2 separate regions of the Homo sapiens genome follow, and region 2 is linked to region 1. The links come from fine-mapping of genetic effects on gene expression. A gene starts in region 1. The other region holds a variant in brackets. All regions are shown on one strand. Distances are from middle to middle. Region 1 holds the start of CITED4 (Cbp/p300 interacting transactivator with Glu/Asp rich carboxy-terminal domain 4). Region 2 has its middle 51 kb from the start of CTPS1.

What was found. PIP is the estimated chance that this variant, and not a neighbour inherited with it, causes the effect.
Region 2: its variant is fine-mapped to the expression of CITED4 in monocytes after R848 (Quach 2016, PIP 0.95). The same link has a PIP of 0.9 or more in monocytes after Pam3CSK4.

The regions. Positions count from the first base shown.
Region 1 is chr1:40,852,206-40,868,116 of GRCh38, forward strand. CITED4 (Cbp/p300 interacting transactivator with Glu/Asp rich carboxy-terminal domain 4) reads right to left here and starts at 10,158. Exons shown (of 1, transcript NM_133467.3): 1 at 8,849-10,158. The coding sequence starts at 9,922. The coding sequence ends at 9,368. It overlaps LOC124904157 (a long non-coding RNA gene), which reads left to right and starts at 10,179. Exons shown (of 3, transcript XR_007066025.1): 1 at 10,179-10,905; 2 at 11,963-12,190; 3 at 14,543-14,726. It overlaps LOC105378676 (a long non-coding RNA gene), which reads right to left and starts at 5,289. Exons shown (of 3, transcript XR_947239.2): 1 at 4,857-5,289. RefSeq lists silencers at 9,945-10,024, 10,185-10,384 and enhancers at 10,485-10,544, 12,968-13,517, 13,518-14,067.
Region 2 is chr1:40,920,424-40,936,334 of GRCh38, forward strand. No RefSeq gene overlaps it. Among named protein-coding and RNA genes, the nearest start is that of CTPS1, 51 kb to the right of the region's middle. The variant A/G (reference allele first, on the strand shown) is at 7,537.

The DNA of each region.
Region 1 (15,911 bases):
GCCTCCCAAAGTGCTGGGATTACAGGCGTGAGCCACTGTGCCCAGGCAACAATTCTCTTTATGTAGGACTCAGGCCTCTGATATCTTCCCCATCTGTACCAAGTACTCTGGGGCATAGGAGACTTGAGTTCTAATCTCAACTGAGCCACTTATTACTGTCACTTGGCTGTGGTGGAGGCTGCTGGTTGTCTACCAAAATCCATTTCCCCTCTTCCAGAGTAATTAAGTTACTGATGAACACATTGTCGCCAGCTAGAAACCGTATTTCCCAGCCTTCCTTACTGCAAAGTGTGCTCATGTAATTAAATTCTTGTCAAGAAAATCTGAAAAGTGACATGAGTCACTGGGCCTTAGAACACCAGGTGTGCTCACCTCCTCAGTCTCACCTTCCTGAGAGCCAGACACAAAGATGTCCATGACCCAGATTCCGCTCTGCAGAAAAAGATAGAAAAGGAAAGAAAGCCAACTTGGACTTTGAGGAGACATCTTGGCCCACGAGGTTGGAGTCATGAAAAGCAGAGCAACAGGAAGCAAGCAATCTGGGTCTGAATGACGGAGTGGAATCAGAAAGAAGTCTTTTCTGCTCTGCAAGCCACTTTAACATCTTTCTGGGCCAGGTACGGTGGCTCATGCCTGTAATCCCAGCACTTTGGGAGGCCCAGGCAGGGGGATCATTTGAGCCCAAGAGTTTGAGATCGGGCTGGGTAACATAGTGAGACTCCATCTTTACAAAAATTAAAAAATTAGCTGGATGGCGTGGCGTGCGCCTGTAGTCCCAGCTACTTGGGAACAGGAGGATTGCTTGAGCCCAAGGAATTCAAGGCTGCAGTGAGCTGTGATTGTGCCACTGCACTCCAGAGTGAGGCTCTGTCTCAAACAAAACAAAATGAAATCCACTTTTCTTGTTCTCTTTGTTGTAGCAGCTAACACTTAAATATTTCTTACTATGTGCGAGGCACCATCCCAATTATGTTAAATATTTTAACTCAATAAATTACTAGCTGTGTGGAAGCAGGCAAGTCATTTCGTCTCTGTAAGCCACAGTTCCCTCATCTCTCTATAACCTGGAATAATAATGCGCTAGCTTAGATGACAGCGAGTCAGGTGAGATATCATGAGTCAGTACTGAATGACCTAACAAGCAGACAGCTCATGTGTTTAAGGTACTAGCTGCAAATTTGAAAGACTTTGATGCGAAGAAGAAAAAGGGGAGGACGAGGAGGAGAAGAAGATAAAGTATTGCTATTGCAAAATAGCCATGGAAAGATTTGGGGCTTCCTTACACTGATTTTACAGCTAAGCAGTATTTTATTTTGAATCACATACAGGGGAACAAGAAAACTTACCCAAGCTACGTGGGCTATAAACGAGGGAGAGGTGGTTTCCCAAAGGAATTTTTGGGAAACCTTTTATCAGGAGAAGGGTGACTAAATCCTGGAAGGCATAAATAGCAGACGCCTACTTCTGCCCTTGGGTCTTTCTCCGCTGGCTGAAGAGCCCCGTCCTTCAGCCATTTGCGTGGGACATGGTTTGAAGTCCTCCCTGCCCACCCTGGACCCCTTCTCTGGACATACTCACAGCTATTGCTGACTCAGCACTGCTGTGCCAAGTTGGAAATAGCTATTGCTATTGGGAACTTACTGCATGCCAGGCACCGTGCTAAGTACATCAGCCAATAGCTCGTTTAATCCCATCTGTTGAGTGTGTAAGTATTGGAACATATTTTAGTTTAGAAACAAAAACAGAGGCTAACAGTGGTAAAGTGGCTTTGCCAAATGTCATGTATGTAGTTTGGAGCCAGATTCAAACCCAGAAGGGCCTGAAAGACTCAAGCTAGCAGCAGGGCCTGAGAGACAAGCCCAGGTCTGACGCCAAGTCTCTCAGGCCCTGCTGCTCGTCTGTCTGTGTTGCTGTCTCATTAGGGGCAGAAGCACCACTCCACAGACGTCTCTGAGGAGAGCCGGACCACCCCTGTCCTTCGTTTAAATCCAGAAGCTTGGCTGGGCGCAGTGGCTCCTGCCTGTAATCCTAGCACTTTGGGAGGCTGAGGCGAGCAGATCACTTGAGCCCAGGAGTTCGAAACCAGTCTGGGCAACATGGCACCCCGCCCCCCCGCCCCCGCCCCCCACTAAAATAGGGAGCTGAGCGCAGGACCCATTGAAGTCTGTGTGACACTCAAGATTCTAAGGCGTTGTTTTTTTTTTTTTTTTTGATACAGAGTTTCGCTCTTGTTGCCCAGTCTGGAGTGCAATGGCGCAATCGCGGCTCACTGCAACCTCTGCCTTCTGGGTTCAAGCGATTCTACTGCCTCAGCCTCCCGAGTAGCTGGGATTACAGGCGCCCGCCACCATGCCTGGCTAATTTTTATATTTTTAGTAGAGACGGGGTTTCACCACGCTGGCCAGGCTGGTCACGAACTCCTAACCTCAAGTAATCCATCCACCTCAGCCTCCCAAAGTTCTGGGATTACAGGTGTGAGCCACCGCACCTGTCTGGGGATTGTTCTCATTTGTAGAGTCACGGAGGGTAGATATCCACGAACATCAAGTCCAGGTATCTCCGTGAAGCAGAAGTGTGGCCAGGGATGGAGCAGGGAGTCCTCCACAGCCCATTAGAGGGTGGTCTCCAGCGGGGCTCATTTGTATGCCTCTTCCCACAGAGGAGCTCAGGCTTAGGGCTTTGCCATAAAACGGGCACATCAGACAGCAGACTGCCCTAGCCCAAGAAAGGGTGTGAGCCAATCGTTTTGTTTCAAACAAACACATGTTTTTGGTCAAAATAAATATACGCTTAAGACAAAATAATTTTCAAACAATGTAGAAAGCACAGAGTAAAAAGTCAGACCACCCCCACACAAGACTTTTCAAACACACACGATTCCATTATACTACACATACGTTACATACATATACATAATACACATCTCTTTTTTATATAAATAGGATTATAATATTTTATTTTATTTTATTATTTATTTATTTTTATTATTTTAAGACAGAGTTTCGCTCTTGTTGCCCAGGCTTGAGTGCAATGGTGCAATCTCAGCTCACTGCAACCTTTGCCTCCTGGGTTCAAGTGATTCTCCTGCCTCAGCCTCCCAAGTAGCTGGGATTACCGGCACCCACCACCACACCCAGTTAATTTTGTATTTTTAGTAAAGATGGGGTTTCACCACGTTGGCCAGGCTGGTCTCGAACTCCTGACCTCAAATGGTCCACCTGCCTCGACCTCCCAAAGTGCTGGGATTATAGGCATGAGCCACCACGCCCAGACTATTTTTATTTTTAAAAAATTATTTTGAAAATTTGTTTTGCCAACCTTAGAGTTAACTACACCTCATAAATAAAAAATGAAATTTTAAGTTTAAAATGTATTAAAATTTTCCTGGACTCAAGTGATCCTCCTGCCTCGGCCTCCCAAAGTGCTGGTATTCTAGGTGTGAGCCACCATGCCTGGCCCAGCACTTCCTAATGCCCTCTGAGCCACACAGGGGGCGATGGTGAGCCTTACAGTCTGGTGGAGAAAGACCCCTCAGCGACTCTGACACACAAGGTAATAGGCCTTTGGATGTGGAAAAGGCCCTATGGAGGGCATTTCAGGCTGAGGAAATGGCACAGGCAAAGGAACAGAGGCTTGGCGGCACGAGGAACATCGTGCATGAGGAGCCTGGGGTGGCTGGAGTTGAGGGTGGGAAGGCACTTGGAGGCTGGGTGGGGCAGGGCTCTGTCCTTCTCGTCCCTGTGGTCATATTTCCCAGCCACAGCTCCACCTGAGCAGCTCACGGGTCAGGCACTTAACATCACCTTGGTTCATTCTCACAAGAAGCTTATCGTGTCTCTATTTGACAGACGAGGGGACTGCACTCAGAGTAGCTTCCTTTATTTCTTCTATCCATCAGGGCACACTTTGGGCCCTGGGCCTTTACTCATGCCCAGTCCCCCAACCTGTGTGTCCTCCCCAAGCTGACCCACATCCCACTCTTTTATCAGCACCAGCCCTCAGGGCCGTCCAGACGCTGAGCTGCTCAGCAGTGCCTCCTTAGAGCCCTCAACATGAGACTCTACGTTGCATGCTCCAGGCTGGCCAGATCTCAAGCCCCAAAGTATATGCAGGTGTCCTCTTCCCAGACCAGCTACAGGATAAGGGCCATGGTTGTTCAGCCACAAACCCACTTTGGCCAGGCAGCACTGCACTGCTTGCAGTGTGCTCTCAGAAACCCAGCCTCATGTGAATCTTTGCACACACATTCTTCAGATGTTGGAATTATTCTCTCCATTGGATGGAAGAAGGAATCAAAGCCTAAGGAGGCCCAGTAACTTCCTCTGCAATTCACAGCCTCAGAGTGGCAGATCAGCTCTGGGACTCTGCTCTTATCCCACCCAGGCTCAGGTCCTTGGCCAGATCCAGCCTGGGAAGGGGACAGGCCCTGGATATGGTGGGGTGGACATGCTCACCTCACCTCTTACTGAGGTGTGACTTGGAGTAATTCTCTGAGTGCCCCAGTTTTCTGACCTCTGGAATGGGGATAAACTACCTAGCAGTGCTATTTACAGGGTTGGGCGGTGATTAAAGAGAGACTGGAAAAGAAAGAGTGCCACTGGGCACTCCCCGTCAGTTCCCACCATGCCTGCACGCAGCAGCCACTCAGTAAGCACTTATTTGGTCTTATAGTTGGCACTAATCTTGTCCCAGCACTTCTAACAACAGGGTGGCATGAAGAGTTAGGCCACGATGGATTAAGGAATTCAAGAGGATTACTTAGTAATCAGCTAAACCACTTAAGCTGCCTGGGAAAAGGCTAGGATCAGACTGATCATTAATTTATTCGATAAATGACTGTTGAACACTTATCTGACCTGGAGTGATGACGATGATGATGACAATGACGATGATGATAATGATGATGACAATGACGATGATGATGACAATGACAATTATGATAGTGATGGCAGCGCTCAGTTATTGAGAATCTACCATGTGTGGGGTATTTTGTATAGAGTCTCATCACATCAAACCTGTAAGGTTGATACATTTACATTTTGTTGTTTTTGTTCTGTAATGGGGAAGGTGCTGGTCAGGTCTGAGACTAAGGTGAGGCAAAAGAGATACCCAGGGCATAAATTTAAAGAGTCCCTTGCTGTTGGGAACCAGAGTCCCCACCCCAGTGCTTGTGGTGAACACTGTGATGTGCCGCCCAGAGCCCCCTTCTATGAAATCATTGCCCTAGTCTGGGCACGGTGGTGCATCCTGTAATCCCAGCACGTTGGGAGGCCAAGGCAGGCAGATCACTTGAGGCCAGAAGTTGGAGACCAGACTGGACAACATGGTGAAACCCCATCTCTACTAAAAATACAAAAGTTAGCTGGGTCCGGTGGCACATACCTGTAACCCCAGCTATGCAGGAGGCTGAGGCAAGAGAATCACTTGAACCCGGAAGGCAGAGGTTGCAGTAAGCAGAGATCGCGCCACTGCACTCCAGCCTGGGCGACAGAGTGAGACTCTGTCTCAAAAAAAAAAAAAAAAAAAAGAACAAAAGAAAAGAGAAGAAAAGGAATCATTGCTCTAGCCCCCAGGAGTGCTGCTGTTGGTAGACAGCCGTACCCTGGCAGCTCCTCCAGGGATGAGCTTAGCTGGGGACAGCTGCCTTGCCCACAGTCACACCACTTCTCTGGGTGGCTCACATCCAGTGACTGATGGAGGCAGGAGTATAAAGGATTAAAATGGTCCAACTCAGGCCAACTCTGAAGGGCCCTTCTAGCTCCAGAGCTCCCAGCGGGGCTGGCTGAGGCTCCTGCTGGGCCTGCTTTGTAGCTTCTTAGCTCCTTCTGTCCCCTCCCTTCTGCAGCTGCTGATCCTGAAGGCACTCCCTAATACACCTCTTGCTAGCTGAATGTCATCTCAGAGTCTGCTTCCCAGGGAACCCCACCTGTAACAGTGTTGCTTGTTGGAGTAACCCCTTTCTAGCTGGTTAAAACACAGCCTTTCTAATATTCTAATACAAAGGCATCTCCAAAAAGTGCTGTTATCAGGGATAACAGCACTTACTACAAACCACACTGCTCTCAATACTTTACCTGCACTAACTTGTTTAATCTCCACAGCAGTTCTGCAGGGTGGTACTATTAGCATTCCCATTGTAGAGATGAGTTCAAGGGAAATTATACTTTTCTTGAAGGAAAAAAAACCACACACACAAATGACAGCTTGTTGATAAAATCCAGTCAACCAAAAGATAATTCAAAATAAAGAACATCAGCCTGGAAACTTTCATATGAATAGGAAAACAAAACAAAACAACAACAACAAAAGGATGGGAAAATGACTTGTGTCATGACTCAGTTCTCAACCCTGAGGAAGCCTGATTTCTGACCCCCAAGATCCAGCCTAGGTATAAGAGAGAAATCCACAGCACCCTTTGGCAACAGGTTGCTTTAGGAGGCAGCCCTGGGGGAGACATGAGCGACACCCTGTTGGCACCACGGAAGCTCGTGTGATTATCTTAGGAGAGCCAAGATGCGGGAGGTGTGGTGGCTTCCTTGAGGTCAGGCAGCTAGTAAGAGTTGCTTCTGAACTGGACCCTGAGGCTGTCAGACGACAAGCCCATTGCTCTCCTCACTGTCTCTACACGTACTCTCTCTTCCCCTGGTAGGGGATGGTAGGGTCAGAAGCCTCCAAACAGTATCAGGGATTTGGGGATCCAGGCTGTGGGATGCCCCAGCCTCATCTTCTCCCCTGTCCATCTGTCTGCTGTCCAACTTGTCAGCAGTCCCTTTTGGAGGGATGCAGGAGGGAAGAGCTCAGCAGCTGGACTCTCTCCTCCGCTTCCCCCTTAACTCTGGAAAGAGGCAGGTGTTGGGGTTTTCGTTGTAATCCCTTCCATATGGAGAGCACTTCAGAGTTTGCCAACTGCTTATCAACCCATCTCTGAATTTGTTCCTTACTAATTGTGAGGGTTATTGCTTTGTAATGTAGCAGGGCAGGGATATTAGCCCCATTTTACTGGTGTGGAAACTGAGGGGAGAGAGAAGAGAATCAGGGAAGTGTTCAGCTCAGGGTCAAACCCTCCTGTACTAATTCAGCCCTGTGGTTTCTGTCTCTGGCCTGGGGTTCTGGGCAAAGCAGCGGGGCGGTGGGGTGGGCAAATGCCAGCCCCTCTGAGCCCAGAGCTCAGGCCAGTCCCTTCCCAGAAGGCTCTCTTCCTTTCTCTCTTCATCCTGTCCCAGAAATCCCATGATCTTAGGGAGACCTTTATTCATTTGCCAAACACCTCCTGTCACCAGCCACATTCCATCCTGGTAGCTTCAGAGCACAGTAGGTCCTGGGAGAACTCACAGGTTGGTGGAGGGTCACATCCACAAAAAAGCCTGGCTTGAGAGTCAAGCCCAGCTGCTGGGGACAGAAGGTCTCAGCCTGGTGTTCCCCTCCAGTGTCCCTGGAATCCATGCTCTCCTAGAGAATGCCCCACCACCGCAGCGTCTCTGACCCGGCCTCCTCCCTGACTTCAATCTCTTTCCCAGCTTTTCTCCCACATCTCAGAAGCACCTAGGGATTTTTCCAGAGTGAACTGCAGAGGGTGGCCAGGAACTCACGCTGGTGCTCAGGACTCTGAGGCCAAATCCTGCCAGGCCTGGGCACACTCCACAACCCTCATGTGTAGAATGAGGACTGTGCTTGCCTCACGAAGTTGTCGTAAAGCCATTCGACCTTTCTTGTACCTTCTAGACACCCCACACCTTCCCCAAACATTCATCGTACTTGTGTGCCTTCCTGCCTTGAAACAGGCTCCTCTCCTAAAAACATATTCATCACTCAAGGCTCTGTTCATCACGTCAAATGTCACCGCTTCCCTGAAGCCTGAACTGACCCCAACCTCAACTATTAATAGCTGAAACTGCTCCCTTCTCTGGGTGTGCCCGCTTGGCCGGTCTATTGTCCTGGCTGTACAATCCCCCCCAGAACTATTTTCTTTTTTCTTGAGGAGTCTCGCTCTGTTGCCAGGCTGGAGTGCAGTGGCATGATCTCGGCTCACTGCAACTTCTGCCTCCTGGGTTCAAGCGATTCTCCTGCCTCAGCCTCCCGAGTAGCTGGGACTATAGGCGCGCACCACCATGCCCAGCTAATTTTTATATTTTTAGTAGAGACGGGGTTTCACCATATTAGCCAGGATGGTCTCGATCTGTTGACCTCGTGATCTGCCCGTCTCGGCCTCCCAAAGTGCTGCTTAGCACTGTTTTCTAGAACTCATCACAGTCTTCCTTGCAGCAAGATTAGTTTGTTTTCAGGCCTATCACCCACCTCCTCCCACCTGGGCTGTGATTCCATGAGAACATGCACCAGGTTGACACAGGGCCTGGAATAAAATCAGCACCAATTTGTAGAATAATAATTGCCGTCACTTACTGAGAACTGCCCAGGTATTTGGCACTGTGCTAAAGGCAGCGTAACTACCTGAGGAGACGGGGACCATCTCCCTCTGGGAAACCGCCTCAAAAATCAGAACGGATGGTGTCTTGGGCAAAGGAGAGAGTCAGGGTCCAAAGCTAGGCTGTCTGAACTCGGTGCCACCCAGCTCCTCTCTGGCAGAGCACCAAGCTCCCCCCACCCTACCCTAGGAGCTGGGAAGCCCAGTGGGTTACCCCACCACCCAGTGGCAGCCTCTGCCCTCCAGGTTGTGACATAACAATTGCACAACCCACGAGATATTTTTGAAAGAAACTGTCGGTTTCCTCTCCTGGGCACTGCTGGGGACTGTGGCCCCCATGCCATCCAGTGTCTTCAGCAACCTTGGGACTTTGGAAGCTAAATATAGTCAGGGCTCGGGGTGATAAGGAAATGAAAACGGCAAGACTGTAAAGTGACCCAGTTTTATTTTGGTTTTGGAGGCCAGACAGGGCATTGCTCCACGGGTTCGGGCTGTACAACCTTCCCCTCCTTGAGGTGGGAGGCCCAGCAACCACAGGGCCCAGGCAGCGGGGTGGGAGGCTCAGGAGATGGTGGCTCTGGGGACCCGATCCCGAGGAGAGAGGGGGCAGCAGGCAGAGGCCTGCAATGGCTCAGATTGGGGGAAGAGGGCGGCGAGGGGGAGAGGACACGATCCAAGAACCAGAGTCCGAAAGCTGAAGCTGGTCCGGTCTCTTTCACTTTACGGCCGAGGCTGGGGTCAGAGAAGTGAAGCCAAACTGTCCTCCCGCAGGAGGCAAGGCCTGGAGGGACGCCAGGGTCCCAGTCCGGTGCCGGGCCCTGCGCACACAGCCGCCGCCTCCACCCTCGCGGAGGGCGCGCGCGGGGCCCAGTCGCTGGGTGCAGGGTCCGGCGGGCAGTCGGGCCCTTTCTCCTCTCCGGCACGCCGGGCGGGCGCCGGCCGCCCTCAGCAGCTCACGGAGCCGGCGGGCGGCGCGGACCCCAAGTCCGAGAAGCAGTCGAACTCGCTCTGGCCCAGGAAGAGCTCGGGCAGCTCGCGCACGCGGTGCAGCCCGAGCTCCAGCTCCAGCGACGTCAGCGCCTCCTCGTCGATGAGTTCGGCGTCCATGCCGCCCAGGGCGTGCGCGGGCGGCGGCGGGGCTGCGGCGCTTGGCGCCGGCTGCGGGCCCGGGGGGCCTCCCGGAGCGTTGGGGGGCGCGGCCGCGCGGCCGGGGTACGGCGTCGCCACAGGCTGCAGGTGCGCGATGCCCGCGGCCGGCGGAGGCACGGCCGGAAAGGGCTGGAAGGAGGACGGCGGCCCGAAGGCCCCGTACGCCAGGGCCCCGGGTTGGCGGGGCGGCGGCGGCCCCAGCGGAGCCCCCCGCGGCCTCAGCCCACTGTCCAGGCCCGGGCCCGCGTACGGCGGCAGAGTCCGGAGCGCATGAGGGCCATGGGCGGCCGCGGCGGACGGCGGCCTCTGCACCAGGCGGTAGCCCTCGGCGAGCATCAGGTGGTCGGCCATGGCGGCAGGCCGGCTGCCTGCGGGGACAGCGCGCGGTGGTCAGCGCCGGCTCCCCCGGCCCGGGCCAGCGGCTGCTCTGCGGCGGGAGACCCGGGCACCGTGCGGTCCCTGCAGCTCGGCCGGGCGGAGCAAAACCAAACCCGACTGGTGCCCCGGCCCAGCCCACTACTGCGCACCTTGCGGCCGCAGCCTGGGGTCACAAAGGCCCGCAACCTGTAGTGCTCCGAAACCTCCGCGTCGCGTAGCTGGGCTCGGCGTATTCTTATACCCAGAGGCGGGGCTTCCCCGCCCTCGGACGCTCATTGGCTGGGCGAGACGCTTCTGGGCGGGCCGCGCACGCCTGCATCTAGGTCTTGGCCCCGCCCCTCCCACTGGAACCCCGCCCCTTGGGACTCCGGCCACGCCCCAGGCTCTGAGCACCGCCCTGGGGCGGGGTATTTGGCACTTTCGGAGGGATTCGGTCTGGCCCTCAGGGCTTCGGAATCGGACTTGGCTGGGGTAGAGCTTGAACTGACCAGAAGGTGGGGTGGGAGGGCCAGAGTTTTAGGCCCCCCAAGAGCTGCAGGATGTCAGGCCTACGCAACCTTTTAACTTTCCAGGTAGAGACCGAGGCTCAGTGGCGGAAGAGGCTTCCTGGAAATACACAGCAAAGCCTTGATCAAAGTGAGACTGCACAGCTACACAGGGCGCATGCACCTTAGCGGTGCAGGGTCCCCGCAGGAGGTCAGCTGTCCATTCCCATAACCCCCAGGAGAGCCTGTTGCTCCCCCTCTAGTTCCCACTGCACCTTGTCTGTTGAAGCATGTACTTAGTTGTTATTAATTTATGGGCACGTCTCCTGAAGGACTTGTTCATCTTCTTCTTCTCAGCACTTGGCCCAGAGCCTGGCCCAGAGCAGGCTTTTAGTAAAAGCTGAGTGAATGAACTAATGATGGAATGAATTGCAACTCTCAGCTGAGCCTCAGTTTCTTCATCTGTAAAAGGTAAAGAACAGCAGCACTGACCCTTTGTGAGGGGTAAGTGAGGGCATGTGTGCACAGTGCCTAGCACAGTGCCTGGTATGTGGTAGATGCTCAAAAGTGTCCCTTAGATGAAAGAAAGGCTATTTAAGTTCTTTTTTTTTTTTTTTTTGAGACGGAGTCTCGCTCTTTCGCCCAGGCTGGACTGCAGTGGCGCTGTCTTGGCTCACTGCAAGCTCCGCCTCCCGGGTTCACGCCATTCTCCTGCCTCAGTCTCCCGAGTAGCTGGGACTACAGGCGCCCGCTACCACGCCCGGCTAATTTTTTTTGTATTTTTAGTAGAGACGGGGTTTCACCGTGTTAGCCAGGATGGTCTCGATCTGCTGACCTCGTGATCCGCCCGCCTCGGCCTCCCAAAGTGCTGGAATTACAGGCGTGAGCCACCGCGCCCGGCCAAGGCTATTTAAGTTCTGTCCCAAAGGGCCTTCTCTTGATAACAGCAATAATAACTTGGACTTTTAAAGTGCTTTACATTCTACAAGTATTTTGTTGGGGGCAGGGCATGGATTATCAGCCCCATTTCAGTGATAAGGAGAAGCACACAAAGAGAAAGTGGCTGTCCTGAGGTCACAGGCAGCCAGAGTTAGCGTGTGAATGCCATGTGTTTTCCAAGTCCTTAGGGCAACTGGAGTCTTTCCTGTGGCCAGGAGACAGCCTCCCAGAACCTTACCCTCCACGCATTTGACACTCTCTCTCCCTTCTCTGACCTTCCCCCGACCTGTGGCATCCTTGGGACTTCCTGGAACTTGGGTTTATCCAGTTGATGTAGAGGGGAGAGCCCTAGAGTGAGAATTCAGGGGCCCAAGGTCTTTTCTTCCCTCTTTCTTCTTATTTTTTTAAATAGAGAAGGGAGCGGGGGGGAGGGGCGGCGTGGGGGAGTGAGGAGGGCCTCAGGCTTATCTCGAATCCCTGGCCTCAAGTGACCCTCTCACCTCAGGCTTCCAAAGTGCTAGGATTACAGGCATGAGCCACTGCGCCCAGCCAGAGGCCCAAGTTCTAATCATATCTCTGCCACCCACAGGTGTGTGACCTCCACCACCAACCAGCTGTGACTGTTGAGTGTTGAGCGGGGAGTATTACTTGATTCCCCAGGGCCTCAGCTTTCTGCTCTGTGAAAGGGAGACGGTGATCTTGCCTGGTCAGCCTGAGAGCTTGTGGGTAGTGATAAATGACCATGGGTGTGGTCACATTTTTGCAAAGTGTAAAAAGCTACACCCTGGAATTTATTCTCCTGAATCTTTCTCTACAGGTAAGGCTTCTCACAGAAATTCTTAAACCTGGCCATGCCTCACACTTATCTGGAGATGTGGGGGGTAAGGGGTGGGTGAGTGGGGGCTTTGATAAAGACGGAAAATCTGCCCAATTTGGGAGATGAAAGTGAGAGGATTGCTTGAGCCCAGGAGCTCAAGACCAGCCTGGGAAACATAGTGAGACCGTGTCTCTACAAAAAGTTAAATAATTAGTTGGGCATAGTGGCATGTATCTGTAGTCTGAGCTACCCAGGAGGCTCAGGTGGGAGGATTAGCTGAGCCCTGGAGGTGGAGGCTGCAGTGAGCCATGATGGCACCACTGCACTCCAGCCTGGGCGACAGAGATCTTGTCTCAAAAAAATCAACAAGCAGGCCAGGTGAGTGGCTCACGCTTGTAATCCCAGCACTTTGGGAGGCCGAGGTAAGTAGATCCCTTGAGCTCAGGAGTTTGAGACCCCTGTTTCTGAAAAAATAAAAAATTAACTTGGCATGGTGGTGTGCACTTGTAGTCCTTGCTACTTGGGAGGTTGAGGTGGGAGGATCACTTGAACCTGGGAAGTTGAGGCTACAGTGAGCTATGATCACACCACTGCACTCCAGCCCGGGTGATGTAGGGAGACCCTCTCTCAAAAAACAAAAAAAAACAAACAAAACAAACAAAAAATTATTCTGCCATCATTGGTCTTAGGTCACCAGCATTTGGGAGCCATTGCACCACCAGATGATTTTCCATTTAAAAAAAAATGTGTGTGTAACTAATGTTTAAGAAGTTCTTTAGGCCGGGCATGGTGGCTCACACCTGTAATCCCAGCACTTTGGGAGGCCAAGGTAGGCAGATCACCTGATATAGGAGTTTGAGACCAGCCTGGCCAACATGGTGAAACCCTGTCTCGACTAAAAATACAAAAATTAGCTGGGTGTGGTAGCACACGCCTGTAATCTCAGCTACTCAAGAGGCTGAGGCAGGAGAATTGCTTGAACCCAGGAGGCGGAGGTTGCAGTGAGCCTAGATAGCGCCACTGCACTCCAGCCCCAGCGACAGAGTGAGACTCCATCTCAAAAAAAAAAAAAAAAAAAGAGAAAAGACAAAAAAAAAAAAGGAAAAATAGAGTAGGAAGGAGGTTGGGGTGCAGGGGAGGAGGGGAGCAAGTTGTAGTATTAAGTGGGGTATCTGGGGCAAAAGCGGGCTGGGCGTGGTGGCTTACGCCTGTAATCCCAGCACTTTGGGAGGCTGAGGTGGGTAGGTCACTTGAGGTCAGGAATTTGATATCAGCCTGGCCAACATGGTGAAACCCCGTCTCTACAAAAAGTACAAAAATTAGCTGGGTGTGGTGGCACGCACCTGTAGTCCCAGCTACTCAGGAGGCTGAGGCAGGAGAATCGCCAGAACCCAGGAGGCAGAGGTTGCAGTGAGCCGAGATGGTGCCACTGCACTCCAGCCTGGGCAACAAAGCAAGACTCTATCTTTAAAAGAAGAAAAAAAAAAAAAGCCGTATCAGCAGAGAGAACGCTGGAGCAGCACTTCTAAAACTGTAGCAACAAGTCCTGAAGTGTCAGCCTTACCAGGGACCCCATTAGAAATGCACATTCTAGGACCGTACACCAGACTCAAATCAGTTTCTGAATCAGAAACTGGGCTGGAATTCAGCATCTGTGTTTTAATAAGCCCTGCGGGTGATTCTGATTAAGGACCTCTGAGTTAGGGGGAAGCCTTAGGCAAGGGTGAGCCGCAGCCCTAAGGGAGTGTGGACAGAGTGCAGTGGGGCTAGGAGGGTAGCAGGGAGGCCAACTGCATTGAGGCCTTGCAAGGACTTTGGCAGAGGAGTGACATGATCTGGCCTTTGTTCTGAAAGTGTTGCTATGGTCAGACCTCATTTGTTTCTAGAGTTTCCATAAACTGCTTCCTCCAGGCTCCTTGGATGCCCCAAGCACATTTGCTTCTCAGGACTCTTGCTGTGCCCTCTGCCTGGAATGCCCTTCCTTCAGACAGCCACAAGACCTTCCCTGACCACCCTCTATCCATTCTGTCCCCTTACTCTGTTTTGCTTCTGTCCTTAGCACCCACCACCATACAGTCATGCCCTGCATTACATTTGGGTCAAGACAATGGTCCTATAAGATTACAATGGAGCTGACAAATTCCTATCACCTAGTGACCTTGTAGCCACTGTAACGTCATAGCGCAACACATTCCTCACGTGTTTGTGGTGATGCTGGTGTAAACAAACCTACTGCGCCCCCAGTCATATAAAAGTATAGCACATACAGTTATGTACAGTACACTTGATAATGATGATAAACAACTATGTTACTGGTTTACGTACTTATGATATGTTTTATTGTTATTTTAGAGTGGACTCCTTCTACTTAAAAAAAAAAGTTAACTGTAAAGCAGCCTCAGGCAGGTCCTTCAGGAGGTATTGCAGAAGGCGGTTATCACGTGAGATGACAGCTGCATGTTACTGCCTCTGAAACCTTCCAGTGCGCCAAGGTGTGGAGGTGGAAGACAGTGATATTGATGATCCTGACCCCAGGCTAATGTGTGTGTTTGTGTCTTAGTTTTTAACAAAAACAGTAAAAAAAAAAATATTGAAAATAGAGAAAAGCTTATAGGATAAGGATATAAAGAACAAAAACGGGCTGTGTGTGGCGGCTCACGCCTGTAATCCCAACACTTTGAGACGCTGAGGCAGGAGGATCACTTGAGCCCAGGTGTTTGAAACTAGCCTGGGCAACATAGCAAGATCCTTGTATCTACCAATAATAAAAAAAATTAGTCAGGCATGATGGCATGCACCTGTAGTCCCAGCTACTTGGGAGGCTGAGGTGGGAGGATCACCTGAGCCTAGGAGGTTGAAGCTGCAGTGAGCCAGGATTGTGCCATGGCACTCCAGCCTAGGTGGCAGAGTGAGACCCTGTCATAAAAAAAAAAAAAAGAGGGCCAGTCACGGTGGCTCATGCCTGTAGTGCCAGCACTTTGGGAGGCCCAGGAGGGCGGATCACCTGAGGTGAGGAGTTCGAGACCAGCCCGGCGAACATGGCGAAACCCCGTCTCTACTAAAAATACAAAAATTAGCCAGGCATGTTGGTGCGTGTCTATAATCCCAGCTACTTGGGAGGCTGAGACAGGAGAATCACTTGAACCCAGGAGGCAGAGGTTGCAGTGAGCCAAGATCGCACCACTGCACTGTAGCCTGGGCAACAGAGCAAGACTCTGTCCCAAACAAATAAATAAAGTGAAAGAAGGAAAGGCTGTACAATGTGTTTGTGTTTTAAGCTAAGTGCTATTACAAAAGAGTTTAAAAGTTTTAAAAAGTACATAACGTTACAGTAAGCTAAGGTTAATTTATTATTAAAGAAATAAATCTTTGTTATAAATTTAGTGTAGCTTATAAAGTCTACAGTAGTGTGCAATAATGTCCTAGGCCTTCACATTCACTCACCACTCACTCACTTACCCAGAGCAACCTCCAGTCCTGCAAGCTCCACTTGTGGTAAGTGCCCTATATAGGTGTACCAGTTTTTTAAAATCTTTTATACTGTTTCTTTTTTTTTCTTTTTTCTTTTTTTTTTTTTTTTTTGAGTCACAGTCTCTCTCTGTTGCCCAGGCTGGAGTGTAGTGGCACAATCTTGGCTCACTGCAACCTCCGCCTCCTGGGTCCAAGCAATTCTCCTGCCTCAGCCTATGGAGTAGCTGGGGTTATAGGTGTGCATCACCAT
Region 2 (15,911 bases), 68 kb after region 1:
GAGCAGACAGGCAATAAACATGTACACAAATGACAAATTGTATAGTACCAGAGTATGTTAAGTGCTCTGTACACAAGTCAAAAGAATAGGGCGTGATGAAGAGGATGTGTGTGGGAACCGCGAGGAGGCCATTGAGGTAGAGTGAGCACAGTGACCAGGCCACTGAGGTAGAGTGAGTGCGGTGACCAGAAGGGCTGGGAATAGAGGTCACAGAGGAAAGGCCATGGTGAAGAGTTTGAATTTTCTGAGAGACAGGCATGGTCCAACACTTTGGGAGGCTGAGGTGGGTGGATTGCTTGAGCCCAGGAGTTTGAGGCCAGCCTGGGCAACATGGTGAAACCTGGTCTCTACAGTTTTGTGCGTGTATATGTATACACACACACACACACACATATATACACACATATATACACACATGTATATACATAATGTGTATTTATATGTATAAATTAGCCAGGCGTGGTGGCGCATGCTTGTAGTCCCACCTATTTGGGAAGCTGAGGTGAGAGAATCCCTTGAGCTTGGGAGGTTGAGGCTGCAGTGAGCCAAGATTGTGCCACTGCACTCCAGCCTGGGTGACAGAATGAGACTCTTTCTAAAAAAAAAAAAAAAAAAAAAAACCTTCCATGGGGTGTGACGGAAAGCGACTGTCCTGTCTGTGTGCCATGCCCATTCCTCCCACTGGACCTCTTGTCTGAATGGCCTCCCCAAGCTTCTCCAGCATCCTTGTTATACTTAGATTTCAGGACCCAAGGCCAGTCATGCTATCATTCTGGAGCCTTCTTTGTTTACTCCAGACCACATTCATCTCTTCTTCCAAATTCCTAAGATGGTACCTTGGGTCTTGGGGCTTGGCTAGACTTCAAATTCAAATTCTCAAACATGTACTCTGCCCCCATGTCATGCCTATCACTGTGCTGGTGCAACACGTAGGTAACTCATCCAAGCCTCGCCACCTTCCCATGAGGTTCAAATTATGCCCAGTTTTTACAGATGGGTAAACTGAGGCTTGGAGCAGTTAAGCAACTTATCTGTGGGCTCACATATAAGGAGTGGTGGAGGAAGGATTTGAATGCAGCATCTGATCCCCCAAGTCCAGCTTCGTTCTCACTAGCCCTCAGCCACTTCTGCCTTTACATAATTTGATCATGGTCTTCAGGGGTCCCCAGACCTGCCCCTAATCTCCTTCCGCATCTTCACTTCTGCACGACCCACAGCACCCAGGGATCACCGGAGTAGGCACCCTGCACTTCTCTATGCCCCCTGCCAGTGGGATGTGACACTTGCAGAGTGAATAAGCACCCCTAGGGTGACAGCCAAGGCTGCCCACACCTCTCTCCTCTCCTGCAGTGGGTTCCTACAGGGAGCCAGCAGCCATCCAGTGGAACAAGGGGCCAACACTTCAGAAGAAACTGCCATATGCTGGAGTTGTGTTATTGTCAATATGACTCTTTCTTCCAGGCCTGTGCATGATGGCATGGGAATAGTCATAACAACCTTTACTACAGCAACTCTTCATTGGCACTAGCCCATCTTAAGCTTCTCCTTTTTGGGTTAAATTCAGGATGTCAATAATAATAACAACAATAGTTTTTTTGTTGTTGTTGTTTGTTTGTTTGTTTTGAGACAGAACTCACTCTGTCACCCAGGCTGGATTGCTGTGAAGTGATCTCTGCTCACTGCAGCCTCAATCTCCCAGGCTCAAGTGATCCTCCCAACTTAGCCTCCCGAGTAGCTGGCACTACAGGTGTGCACCACCACACCCAGCTAATTTTTGTATTTTTTGCTGAGATGGGGTTTCGCCATGTTGCCCAGGCTGATCTCAAACTCCTGGGCTCAAACCCTCTGCCTGCTTGGGCCTCCCAGAGTGCTGGGATTACTTGCATGTACCGCTGTGCCTGGACAACAATAGCTATTTTATCAAAAATATGCAAAATGAAAGGAAGCTGCTGGGCACTTTATGTACCCTATCTTATTTAATCCTTATAGAAACCCTAGGATGCAGGTATGATTATTATGCCCATTTTACAGATATAGAAACTGAGTCTCAGGCAGGCAAAGCAACTTGCCTGAGGCCACAGAGCTGATAAATGCTGAAACTCAAATCCCAGCTCCACCCTGAGGCTGGTGGACCTCCAAGTCCTTGATCTCAACCTCTGCACCCAGTTCTACAACCAGATAGGTGTTCAGGAGGTCCAACACAGGCAGTGGATAGGTGAGGAAGGCTTAGTGACTGGGGCTCCTCAGAGAGGTGCATAAAACCAGGGAAACTCAAAGCACTGCAGGGACACTGGTCTGAGTTTCAGGAACCTGGGTCCAGATCCTGGCTTTGCCTCCTCCCAGCCGTGTGTCCTTGCTCATGTTGCCTACCCTCTCTGCACCTTTATTTCCTCAGCTGTGAAATGGGTTGATAATAGATTCGCCCTCCAAGCCTGGTGTAAGAAGGAAGTATGATAATGTCTGTGAACATGCTTTGAGGCCCTGAAGCACCACGCTTAGTGCATTATCATCCATTCCCTGGACTTCTAGAATGAGTGAACCGTGGGAGAATCAGGAACAGCATCGGGGGAAGGAGGAGAGGAAAGTGTCGGATCAGGCTTTTCTGGGTAGACAGAGGTAGGTAAATGTCTTGCTCAGCCAACCTCACATGACAAGAGGAACCTGCTAACTAGGTCACCTTGCAGGAGGAAAGAGCTATTCCGGGATCCGCCTGCAGTTGCAGAGCTGGAGCTGGGGAGCTGAGCTGGCTATTTCAGGGGCGGCACAGAAAGCCCGTCCGACCGCTCTCCCTTGGATCTCGGCCCTGCCTTGGGCCTAGGGCCTTGGGCCTTGAGAGGCAGGGAGATTCTAGTGGACGCTGTGCTGGCACTCTCTGCATGGCTGCCCTCAGGCAGGGGGAACCATCAGGCCATCTGGAACCATCACAACACGATCTTCCCCATCCCCTGGGAACCACCATCCCAGGCAGCTGTGGGTGAGGGTGGCAAGATGCTAGACTTGCATTTCTCAGCCTGACTGGGAGTCTCAGCTCCTGAATGCAATGACCCTGCAACGCTGGGCAGTTTGCTCCAGCATTCTGGGCCTGGGTTTCCTCACTTGTAACATGGGGGTAATGGTGCTTATGTTCCAGGACTGTCTGAGGATTAAATGAGATAATGATATAAAGCACCAAGCACAGGGTCTGGCCCAGAGGAAGCACTTGATAAATGGGGATTGTTCCTAACTGAGCTTCTGTGGCATTCTATGCTGCAATAGTGATGGCGGGGAGGGGACACCTGAAAGAAGGCTGCACCTTGTGGGATGGGAATGGGGGCGGAAGGAGAGATTATGCTGGAGAAATTGAGCGTTTGAGACTGCTTAAAGAGAAGAATCCTTTTGGGAGGAGCCTGGGACTGTGAGGTCAGTGTGACCCAGGTGAGAATTGCTCAGCTCCCTGCAGGTTGGGCAGGTATGTCTTTACCTTCTGAGCTTCAGGTGCCTTGTCTGCAAAATGAGGCTGAAAATACTTAGCTCCTATAATCTGGCAAGAAATAAGTGAATTAACATAAAGCCTTTATTTAGCATAGTGCTTGGCACCTAGTAGGTGTTCAAGAAATGCCAGCTATTATTGTGTTATCTCATTTAGTCCTCATAGCTACCCTATAAAGAAAGTATTACTATCTTCATTTTATAGATGAGGAAATGGAGGCACAGAGAGGTTAAGTAATTTATGCAGGGTCTCATAGTGAAGAAGCTGTTTTACTAAGATTTGAATTTAGTCTGACCTTGGAATTCGCACTTTTAACTACCACTTCCCATGCTTGTGTGTGTGTGTGTGAGAGAGAGAGAGAGAGAGAAAGTATGTATAGCTATATGCGGATATGTGAAACAAAAAGATGAAAAGTGCCTAGCATGATATGGTTACATAGTCAGTGATCAGTAACCAGCAGCTGTTGTTACTGTAATTGTTATTCCCGTCATGACCATTGTTCACAATTTAATTGGCAATTATGAAACAGGAGTGGCCGGTGAAGGTAGAAAGAGTTCTAAAATATTAGAAAAGGCAACAATCCCATTCTCAAAGGACTTGTCAAAAGGAAAAGGCAAAAGAATAGTCATAAAGTCATAAGTAACTTTCTTGTAGCATTCTCTATAATTAGGAAAAATGGGGAAAATGTATATACCGAAGAATAACGGGGTGGTTACGTAAATTATGGTTGATCAGTGGCTCACACCTGTAATCCCAGCACTTTGGGAGGCTGAGGCGGGCGGATCACATGAGGTCAGGAGTTCAAGACCAGCTTGGCCAACATGGCGAAACCCCATCTCTACTAAAAATGCAAAACTTAGCCGGGTGTGGTGGTGCATGCCTGTAATCCCAGCTACTCAGGAGGCTGAGGCAGGAGAATCGCTTGAACCCAGGAGGTGGAGGTTGCAGTGAACTGAGGTCGCGCCACTGCATTCCAGCCTAGGCAATAGAGTGAGACTCCATCTCAAAAAAAAAAAAAAAGAAAGAAAAGAAAATGACACATTCATTTAGAATGATGATACAAGGACTTGACATGGAAAATGTTTATTACGTAATTACTATTACTGGGGAAATGCTGGATATAAAATTCTATTTCTGCTCTAATTATACCTCTGTTAAAATATCGACTGTATGTAGAGAGGAGCTAGAAAGAATATGCAGTGTCAATGTGATAAATGCTGGCATTGAGTATTTCTCTCTTTGTCATTGATTTAATAACTCAACCATCATTTATTAAGCACGTACTAAGGTCGGTCAGCATGTTAGGCATGGCTATTAGTATGGATTATATTAGGCTGCAGGAAGACTTAACGAGAAAAGAGGTTTTAGTGCCTCTCAGAACATTCAGCGGGGAAGCAGTTCAAAGCCGATGTGGCAGCTTCAGGGTGTCAGGGACCATGGCTCGCTCTCTGGGGGGGCTCTGGCATTTCTAGGGAGTTACCTTTTTCCACATGGTCCTATGGGGTACACCACCATGTCTATGTTCCAGCCAGCAGGGTAAGGAGGAGAAGCGGAGGGCATGCTTCTTCCAGGAAAGGTCTCACTGAAGTTGCTCACACCACCTCCCTCCTTATGCATTGGCCAGAACCTTGTTGCTTGGACACCCCTAGCTGCAAGCTAGACTAAGACACGTCAGGACTTTGGGAGGCCATTAGCCTTGCTAAAAACAGGTCCCAATTACTGCAGAAGAAGGGAGAACAGCAACAGGGGCACCCCTGCAGCATAACAGATTAAGTAAGTCAAAGCCACAATCCTGGAAGAACCCAGTGCCCAGTGAAAGTGACATACACTGTCAAGAAATTGGCTGGGTGCAGTGGCTCATACCTGTAATCTCAGAGCTTTGGGAAGTTGAGGCAGGAGGATCACTTGAGCCCAGGAGTTCAAGCCTGGGCAACAGGAAAAAAAATTTTTTTAATTAGCTGGGGATGGTGGTGTGTGCTGTAATCCCAGCTACTCCAGAGGCTAAGGGACGAGAATGGCCTGAGCTGGGGAGATAGAGGGTGAAGTGAGCTATGATTGCACCACTGCATTCCAGCTGGGGCAAATAATTATAAGACAATCTGTGAAGTGCTGTGATTGAGCTATAGGGTTACCAGGGACAGAATGACCAACACTGGCTGGGGGGCCATGAACAGCTTCATCTCCCATGAAGATTTTGCCTGGAACGATCCCATCCCACTCCGTTTGTACCATGTGGTTCTGTGCTCCCACCAAGACTTAACTGATCTCAGCAGTGGGTGAGGGGCACTCCTGACCAAGCTGGAATCATCCAAGGCCTGCTGGGAGTTTGAATGGAGTGGAGCGAAGCAGCATCTGGGGTCATGGTAGACTTGTCCCCTGAAGGCAGCAGGCTTCTACTGCAGTGATCCCTGGAGACATGCTAGACCTGTTCTTCAGACGATCCTTGATTCAACTCCTCTTCCTTCAGTCTGTGTGGTGCCTCCATAGCTCCCAAGATATCCATCCCACCACTCCCTCCCAGGTTTGTTTGTTTGTTTGTTTGTTTTTGCCTTAAGGTAGTTACTTGAGACCAAAATAAGCTGAACTAACTCAGAGGTCAGGGTAAGTTAACAAGCAGTTTCACTGAGATTCAATTCTAAGTGGATATCCCCCCCCCGGGTGCAATGTGCAATAAGAAGCCATGAGGTTTTAAGGAGGGCAGAGGGGAAGGTTTTCCAGGCAGGGAATCAGCAGCGTATATATCTGGAAGCCTTTTATTTCTGTCAGTGGTTTATTGATTATGCAATAAAAGGACCGCTGGGAAGAGAAAACTCATAACAAAGGCCCTAGTGGGCCCTGAAGCCACCAGCCCACGACTATCTCTGGGTGAAGAGCTGGAGTTTCGTCCTCCGAGACAGCTGTGGTTTCTGCTTTGCTCTGTGATCCTAGGCCCTCCAGGAGATCTCTCTGGAACTGATTCTTCAATTTCTAAGAGAACAACAAGAGTATTTAAGGGGATTAAAAACCACAGCAATATCTATGAACACTTTAAAACCCCACTCTGTGCAGGCCTGGTTTAACCCTGGCGATGTAATCATCAATCATTCCTATCCTTGACCTTCCCCTGCACTCACTCAATGAGCAGCTCCCAAAAGTTGGGTCTCCACTGTGCACCTGGGGTCCACACACTTCTCCCCACCAGCTTGGCCCACCACTTCATCGAGCCTCTGGATGACTGCTTCGTCTCCTAACTGGTCTTCCTTTTGTTATTTTTGTCCCCTTCCAATCTGTTCCTACGATACAGCCAATTTGATCTTTTAAAAAATCAGATCAAGCTGGGTGCGGTGGCTCACTCCCAAAGTGCTCCCAGCACTTTGGGAGATGGAGGCAGGGTTGTTTGAGCCCAGGAGTTCAAGACTGGCCTAGGTAACTTAGGGAGACCCCATCTCTACAAAATATTTAAAAATTAGCCAGGCATGGTGGCATGTGCCTGTAGTCCCAGCTACTCAGAAGGCTGAGGTGGGAGGACTGCTTGAGGCCGGGTGGTTGAGGCTTCAGTGAGCCATGATTGCATCACTGCACTCCAGCCTGGGCAATAGAGTAAGATGCTGTCTCAAAAAAAAAAAAAAAAAAAATCAGATTAAGTGGAGGAAGCCAGTCTGAAAAGGCTACATACTGTGTTATTCCAAATCTATGATATTTCGGAAAAGGCAAAAACTATGGAGACAGTATAACAATCAGTGGTTGTGGCCAGGTGCGGTGGCTCATACCTGTAATCCTAGCACTTTTGGAGGCTGAGGCAGGCAGATCACCTGAGGTCAGGAGTTCGAGACCAGCCTGGCCAACATAGTGAAACCTCATCTCTACCAAAAATACAAAAATTAGCCAAGCATGGTGGCACGTGTCTGTAATCCTAGCTACTTGAGAGGCTGAGGCACGACAATCGCTTGGACCCGGGAAGCAGAGGTTGCAGTGAGCTGAGATCGCACCACTGCACTTCAGCCTGGGCCACAGAGGAAGACTCAACTCAAAAAAAAAAAAAAAAAAAAAAAAAGTAGTTGCCAAGGCCTTGGGAGGAGGGAGGAATC[A/G]GTGGAAAACAGGGGGTTTTTAGGACAGTGTGACTAATCTGTATGCTACTATAATAGTAGACACAGGTCATACATTATTCAAAACTCATGTTCAATACAGAGCAAATTCTAATGTAAACTGTGGACTTTAGTTAATAATAATGTATTGGGTCATCAACTGTAACAAATGTACCCCTCTAATGGAGGATGCTAATACTAAGGGAAATTGTGATATGTGTGCATGTATGCACAGTAGAGGGTGAGAGGGAACTCTGGACTTTCCGCTCAATTTTTCTATAAACCTGAAACTACTCTAAAAATAAAGTCTATTAATTTTTTAAAAATCAGATTATGTCATTTTCCTGTTTAAAACCTTCCAACGGCTTCCTATTGCACTTTGAACAACATAATAAAACTCCTTCCTCTGGCTCATGAAGTCCCCATGATGTGGCCCCTGCCTTGCTGTCTCCCTTCCCCAACTAACACTCCACAATGGGCTTCTTTCTGTTTCTCAAATATGCCCAGTTTTTTCTCACCCCAGGGTCTTTGCACTTGCTGTTCCCTCTATCTCGATGCTCTTCCCTCTGATTTTCAGATGGCTGGTTCCCTGTTATCACTGAGGTCCTAGCTAAACATCCCTTCCTTGGAGGGGCCATCCTGACCACCCAATAAGAGCAGCCACCCAGTCACTCAATGCCATGCAACCCTGGATTCTACTGGAAGTAGTTGCCATGGGAACAGGGGTCTTTTCTACCTTCTTCCTTGCTGTATCCCCAGCTCCTAGAACAGAGTCTGACCTGCAAAGGTCCTCCAGAGATACTGGTTGAGTGAATGTGAGTGAATGAATGAAAGAATCTTCTGAAACTCATTCAGGGCCAGGCCTATGCTGGATCCCAGATAAGGCATGGTTTGTGACCTCTGGGATCTCACAATTTAATACACAGAAGTTTACATTGGACCTCCCGAACAAAGTAGCAGAGTGGTTAAGAGCACAGGCCATGGAGCCAGACTTTGTGGGTTCAAATCCTGGCTCTGGTTGGGCTCAGTGGCTCACGGCTATAATCCCAGCTCTTTGGGAGGCTGAGTTGGGAGGATTGCTTGAGCCTAGGAGTTTGAGACCAGCCTGGGCAACATAGTGAGACCCCCATCTCTACAAAAAATTAAAAAATTAGCCAGACATGGTGGCATGCGCCTGTGGTCCCAGCTACTCAGGAGGCTGAAATGGGAGGATCACTTGAGCCCAGGAAGTCGAGGCTGCAGTGAGCCAAGATGGCACCACTGCACTCCAGCCTGGGTGACAGAGCAAGACCCTGTCTCAAAACAACAACAACAACAAAAGACAACTAGCTCTGGTCTGTAACAGCTGTGTGTGTAAAACACCCAGGAAAGTTTCTAGAGCATATTACATGATCAAGAAATGTGAGTCATCATTGATGTCATGCAGGCCATATAAAGATACATGAGGCTGCACAACTCCAACACCAGAGTTCAGGGAATTTGGGAAATCCCTTTATTTATTCATTTGTTTCTGGATCACTCATTGCAAGCCTTTGGAAATGAGCATGAGAAGGGGCAGGTTATTTTAGGGAAAATTAAATTTTTTAAATGGAGAAACTAATATTGACTGTACTAAGAGGCTTGATATTCAAGATGTCATTTTATCCTCCCAACAAATATTTGGGGTAAATACTGTAGGGCTATTTCACAGATGAGAAAACTGAGACTTAGGGAGGTGAGATGATTTGCCCCATGTGACCCAGCTAGGAGGTAGCAGAACCAAGAATGACCCCAGGGCACAGTGAGGTCATAACATGCCCCCTTCTCTCTCACCATCCCTGCTCCAGCAGGCATGGGCTCCAGTCCCGAGCCCGGGCTTACATGGGTGGCAGTGACACTGGGTGGTCAGGAGCTGGGATGTTAGTGTAGACGGACCTGATTTCAAGTCTTACCCAGGGCAAGACTTTGGGCAAGGTTCCATACTGGAAAACTGGGTAGCTGGGCACAATGGCTCATACCTGTAATTCCAGCTACTTGGGAGGCTGGAGAGCAGGATGGCTTGAGGCCAGGAGTTTGAGACGCGCCTGGACAAGATAGCGAGGCCCCTCGTCTCTAAAATAAACAAACATATCAGAAAAATGGGGTTCATAACAATATCTGCTTCATAAGATGGACCTCTGTGAGCACAGCTCTCAGGACAGCACTTGGCAAAGGGTGGGGAGTTGGTAAATACTCATTGAACAGAGGCACCATGGAGTTGTTGTGAGAGGTGAGATGAGATGAGGCTGATCTGTCAGATACATGACAACCAGTTCCCAAAATTTCTGAAAGAAGGACCAGAGCCAGGATTCCACAACATGGCACCTGTGTGAACAGGAGTTCTGAAGAGGGCATTCAGAGCCGGGAGGAACAAAAGGGATCATGTTGTTGACACATGAGGTAATCACCTGGCAGGTTGGTGGCAGAGCTGGCTGGAACCATGGCCATCCGTCAGTTCTCAGGCAGTGCATTGCAGGGGAGAGAACCAAAGAAAGTGTTCTTCAAGGCCAAGGTCCCTTCTGCCAGCCCATGGGGCCTCCGATTCTGTTCTCATGGGGAGTTGGGGTGAGGATGCCTGTGTCATCCATGGGTGAATTCTCCAGCCTCTCTGGGGAGCTCTACATGCCCGGCTCCCTCAGGCCCCAGCTAGTTCCAGGGTTTAGGTCCTGGAGAGGGCCACAGTGCTCAGGGTCTCAGAAGCCAGCTCTTCTTCCCACACCCAGAGCTCCTTCCCCAGCCGGGCCCACACTTTTGCTCCCTGGCTGACCTAGATTCAGGAGCTGGCTCATTTCCACAAGTAGACAGATGCTGAGGCACAGTGAATTAACACACATATTTCAATAAGTGGTGGGCAGGTGGCCCCACAGCCTCTCAGAGCCTCAGTTTTCTCAAATTTTTTTTTGTTTTTTTTGAGACGGAGTCTCGGTCTGTTGCTGAGGCTGGAGTGTAGTGACGCAATCTCAGCTCACTGCAGCTTCCACCTCCCAGGTTCACTTCTCCGGCCTCAGCCTCCTGAGTAGCTGGGATTACAGGTCCCCACCACCACACCCGGCTAATTTTTGTAATTTTAGTAGAGGTGGGGTTTCACCATGTTGGCCAGGCTGGTCTCGAACTCCTGAGCTCCTGTGATCTGCCCACCTCGGCCTCCCAAAGTGTTGGGATTACAGGCATGAGCCATCACACCTGGCCAGTTTTCTCAACTTTTAAAGTAGGGACAATAGCATTTACCCTTGCAGAGTTGTGAAGATTAAATGCACTTATATACTTGAAGTGCTAGCACAGTGGCTGAACAGAGTAAGTCAACAATACACATGTATTATGCATTCTTGCATTGCTATAAAGAAGTACCCGAGACCGGGTAATTTACAAAGAAAAGAGGTTTAATTGGCTCACAGTTCTGTAAGTTGTACAGTAAGCATGATGCTGGCATTTGCTCGGCTTCTGGGGAGGCCTCAGGAAACTTACAATTATGGCGGAAGGCAAAGGGGGAGCAGGCATGTCACATGACCGAAGCAGGAGGAAGAGGTCAGGGGGAGATGCCACACACTTTAAAATGACCAGACCTCGGGAGAATTCACTCACTATTGAGAGGACAGCACCAAGGGAATGGTGCTAAACCATTCATGAGAAACCTACCCCCATGATCTAATCACCTCCCACCAGGCTCCACTTCCAAAACTGGGGATTACATTGAATGTGAGATTTGGGTGGGGACACAGATCCAAACTATATCAACACGTTAATCTCTTTCCTTCCTCACATCTATCCCCACACTGACTTTGGAGGCAGCTTGCTAGCTCTCAGCCGGGCTTACGTCACCACCCTGCTTAAAAAATCTTTTATTCTTCCAGTGCTCTCTAAGCTAATGTGAATATTCCCTGGCTTGGCATCCCAGACCCTCCTCACCCGCCCCAAGCTGTTTGACCCGCCAGCTTTTTTGCCACCCTTTTCTAACTAATGTGCTGTCAAGTTAATAAGCCTTTCTTGGAAATGTCACTCATATACCCCTGCCTTGTAGACCCAATGCACATTAACATATTAAGGGTTCTGAGGAACATTGCAGGAAAGACATTTGTTTAACCTTGTTCAGTGCAGAATTTCCCAAGTGAGTTTGACTGTAGAATCCCATTAATATCCCACAGGACATGCGTTTGTTTCCTGAACACCCTTTGCAATTTCCTGCCTGCATGCTCTGCACAGGTGGGTCTTTCTTTCCACAAAGCCCTTCCTCCCCAACGCCTGTTTACTCATCACAGGAGGCCCAGACTGGCCGACCCCTCCTCCAGTTGGTAGAGCTGACTCCCTCCCCTGGGCTCCCTCAGTCTGTGTCCTCTGCCCCACCCTTGCTCTTCCAGTCCTCCCAGTGAGCATTCCTGCAGGGCTGCCAGCCCTCACTCTCGCCTCCCCAGCATCTGGCCTCCCTTGCTCCCCTGCCCCCACCCGAGATCCATTTGAGTCCTATCTATCTGTTCCCAGGGGACCACCAAAAAACATTTCCTCTAAGAACCTTTTCTGTATTCCTTAGTCAGGTAAAAAATAAACAATAAATAAAAATCTGTTTTCCTCGTGATTTTAGTTAAAGGTCGCTAAGGGTAAGGTCCATATTTTTGGTTTCTCCACAGTGCTTTGCACTTAGTAAGTTCTCAGTAAATGCATGCTTAGACATACATTCCACCATATTTATTGAACACCTATCATGTGTCCTGTGCTGGATGTTGGGGGCATAATGGGAAACACAACAAACCTGGAAGGCAATAAGGGAAGTAGGAAAAGCTAGGATTCTGGGAGACACGGCTTGCTTCTGAATCCTGGTTCCACTACTTACCAGCTATGCATCCCTGAACAAGTTACTTGACCTCTTTGTGCTTCAGTCTCCTCACTCATGAAACAGGGAAAGAAAAAGTATTTGTCTTGAAGGGTTACTGTGAGGATTCAGTAAGATGATACATAAAAAGTGCTTAGAACAGACCCAAACACATAGGAAGAGCTATAGATGTGTTCAGCGATTGTTATTGTAATAGACAGCTTTGCCTCACAGAGTTTAGTTTAATAGGAAAGACAGACGTTGAATGACCAATTATACTAGTAACTATTTATTTATTTATTTATTTATTCGAGACAAGGTCTGGCTTTGTAGCCCAGGCTGGAGTGCAATGGTGCAATCATAGCTCGCTGCAGCTTCAATCTCCTGGGCTCAAGCCATTCTCCTGCCTCAGCCTCCCAAGTATCTGTGACTACAGGTTTGAGCCATCATGCCTGGCTAAGTTTTTCAAAATTTGGGTAGTGACTGAGTCTTACTGTGTTGCTCAGGCTGGTCTCGAACTCCTGGCTTCAAGTAATCCTCCTGCCAAGGCCTCCCCAAGTGCTAGGATTGCAGGCATCAGTCACTGTGCCTGGCCCTATTTATGCTTTCCTATTTATGTTTTTGATAAATGTTGAGAAGGAAAAGTACAGTGCACAATGGGAGAATAAAACAGATGGCCCAGGCTTGTCCCACGGTTCAAGGAAAGCTTCTTGGAGGATATGCCATTTAAACTAAGACTGAGGATAAGCATCAGTTGCCAGGCCAAGAGGGGATGGAAGGGCATTCCATGCAGAGGGAACAGAGTGTGCAAAGATACTGAGCCAGGAAATAATTTGGCATTTTGGAAGAACTCAGAGAAGGCCAGAGTGGCAAAAGGGCAGGGAATGAGAAGGCAGAGGTAGAAGATGAATTTGCAGAGGGGGGCAGACCATGCATGCCCTGGCAGGGCATGTAAGGATTGAGGGCTTTATCCCAGGAGCATTGGGAAGCCTTTGAAGGTTTCAATCAGAGCAGTGACCAGATCATATCTGCGTCTTAACAAACCATTTCAGAGACTGGTAGAGGATACCAGTAGGAGATTGATCCAGGTGAGAGAAGACAGGGGTTTGGACTGGGGTGCTGGCTGTGGGGAAGGAGAGAAATGCAAGCATGAAAGAAATGGTGAGGAGATCAAAGAAATGACAGAAATAAGTGACTGATGGAGAATGGGCAGCAATTGGAAGAGAGAACTGCTGAGAATGCGTCTGGACTCATGGCCTGAGTGGCTGAACAACTGAAGATGAACCCGCTCACGTGCAGGGAGACGTGATGCATTCAGTTTAGGATATGCTGAGTTGGAGGCTGCAAATGGGGTTACTCGTTTAAGGGGGGGTAAGAATAATACAGAAAGTTAAATCATGCTATATTAAGAATATAAAAGTAGGCAAAGTAACTATAGGTTGAACAGAGACTTTGGGTTGAGAGAGAAATAACTTGTATAATCTATCAAAAAAGTCTGAGTCTGTCCCTTTTTAATTTATATTTATTTATTTATTTATTTATTTATTTATTTATTTAGAGACAAGGTCTCGCTATGTTGCCCAATCTGTTCTCAAACTCCTGGGCTCAAATGATCCTCCCACCTTCACGTCCCAAAGTGCTGGGATCACCACTCCAGGACACATTTTTTTTTTTTAATGGAAAAGATGTCACAAATGGAGACCCAGTTTAGTACAAAGGAGATGGGGGTGGGGCGTTTTGGTAGGGTTCAGGGCACTGTGGATTCTCAGCAGTCACTGACTCTTACCAGTCCTGGAAGTGCGTCAAGCAGCTGGACAGAAATCACAGTGTGGACACTGGTTGGCACTTAGGGAACTCATTCATTCGTTGACTTTACAAATATCTATTTATCTGTCAATGTTCTAGGGCTCAAGGAGCTAATTCCTTAGCTTCTAACTGGAGGAGACAGACAACAAACACGTGAGTGCGTAATTTAACATCAGATCAACTGCTGTAAAGGAAAAGAAAGTCAAATCAAGGGTTAAAAAGTGCTGGGAAGAGCTCCATGATTTGAGTGGTCAAGGCCTCTCTGAAGGACAGACATCTGATTTCCAATAAAACAATTAAGAAATTACATATTTCCTTTTGTTACCTTTAAATTTATATATTAAATAGCTGACAAAAAATATTTAAAGCTTAATAGAGCATAAAATAAAGGCCATAAAAATGAACAATGAAACCAGTAGAAATCAACAGAAAATCGATGGAAGAAAATGGTAACAAAAGAATTTCAGATCATTCCAAAAGCAGTAACTCAGTAAGAGGAAAAGATAAATTTGCAAAGCAGGTATAAATAGCCTTCTGGAGTCTTTGGTAATCCAATTACTAAAAAGGAATAGGTGGGTACAGTTGTTCATGCCTGTAAGCTTAGCACTTTGGGAGGCCAAGGTGAGAGGATTGCTTGAGCCCAAGGGTTCGAGACCAGCCTGTGCAACATAGCAAGGACCCCCAAATCTATTTTATTTTATTTTTAAATAAAATTTTTTTCTAGCCCATAAGATATGGCAGAAAGACCCCATAGCAAAAAAAAAAAAAAAAAAAAAAAAAAATTAGCCAGGCATGGTGGCATGCAGTGCAGTCCCAGTTAGCTACTCTGGGGGCTGAGGCAGAAGGATCACTTGAGCCCAGGAGTTAGAGGTTACAGTGAGCTATGATGGTACCACTGCACTCCAGCCTGGGTGGCAAAGTGAGACCCTGTCTAAAAATAATAACAATAGGCTGGGCACGGTGGCTCACACCTGTAATCCCAGCACTTTGGGAGGCCGAGGCTGGCAGATCACCTGAGATCGGGAGTTGGAGACCAGCCTGACCAACATGGAGAAACCCCATCTCTACTAAAAATACAAAATTAGCTGAGCGTGGCGGCTCATGCCTGTAATCCCAGCTACTCAGGAGGCTGAGGCAGGAGAATTGCTTGAATGTGGGAGTGGAGGTTGCAGTGAGCCGAGATCGGGCCATTGCACTCCAGCCTGGACAAGGAGAGTGAAACTGTGTCTCAAAATAATAATAATGAATAATAAAAAGGAGTAGATCATGGACACAGTGGAAAAAATATTTACTTTTGCTGAGTTGACACACATTACTGAACTAAGAAAGCATGAAACTTACAATGTACCACTACAAAAGAACATTGATGACAAATGGATAATGAGAATCAATTAAAAGAAGATTTACAATTAATTGTACAAGAAAATTGAAAATGTCCTGAAAGAAACTTGATGGAGGTTTTCACAACTTTGGCAACAATCTTAATAATTGAAACAACATGACCTAAAGTCAGTTATGATGCTAGACGAAACTTTACTAAATTACCAATTAAAAAGTATTTTTCAATAAACCATTTCAGAAGAAAGAGAGAATCCTCTCTCCCTCCTCTCTGTAGAAACACAAAATTACAAAAAAAAAAAAAAATTTAAGTTGTTATATTGGAGAGGCAACCAAAGAAAATGTAGCCAACATATAGGATATTATAGAGGTATGTCAGATGGCAATTAATGAAAATTTATGTATTTTTCTG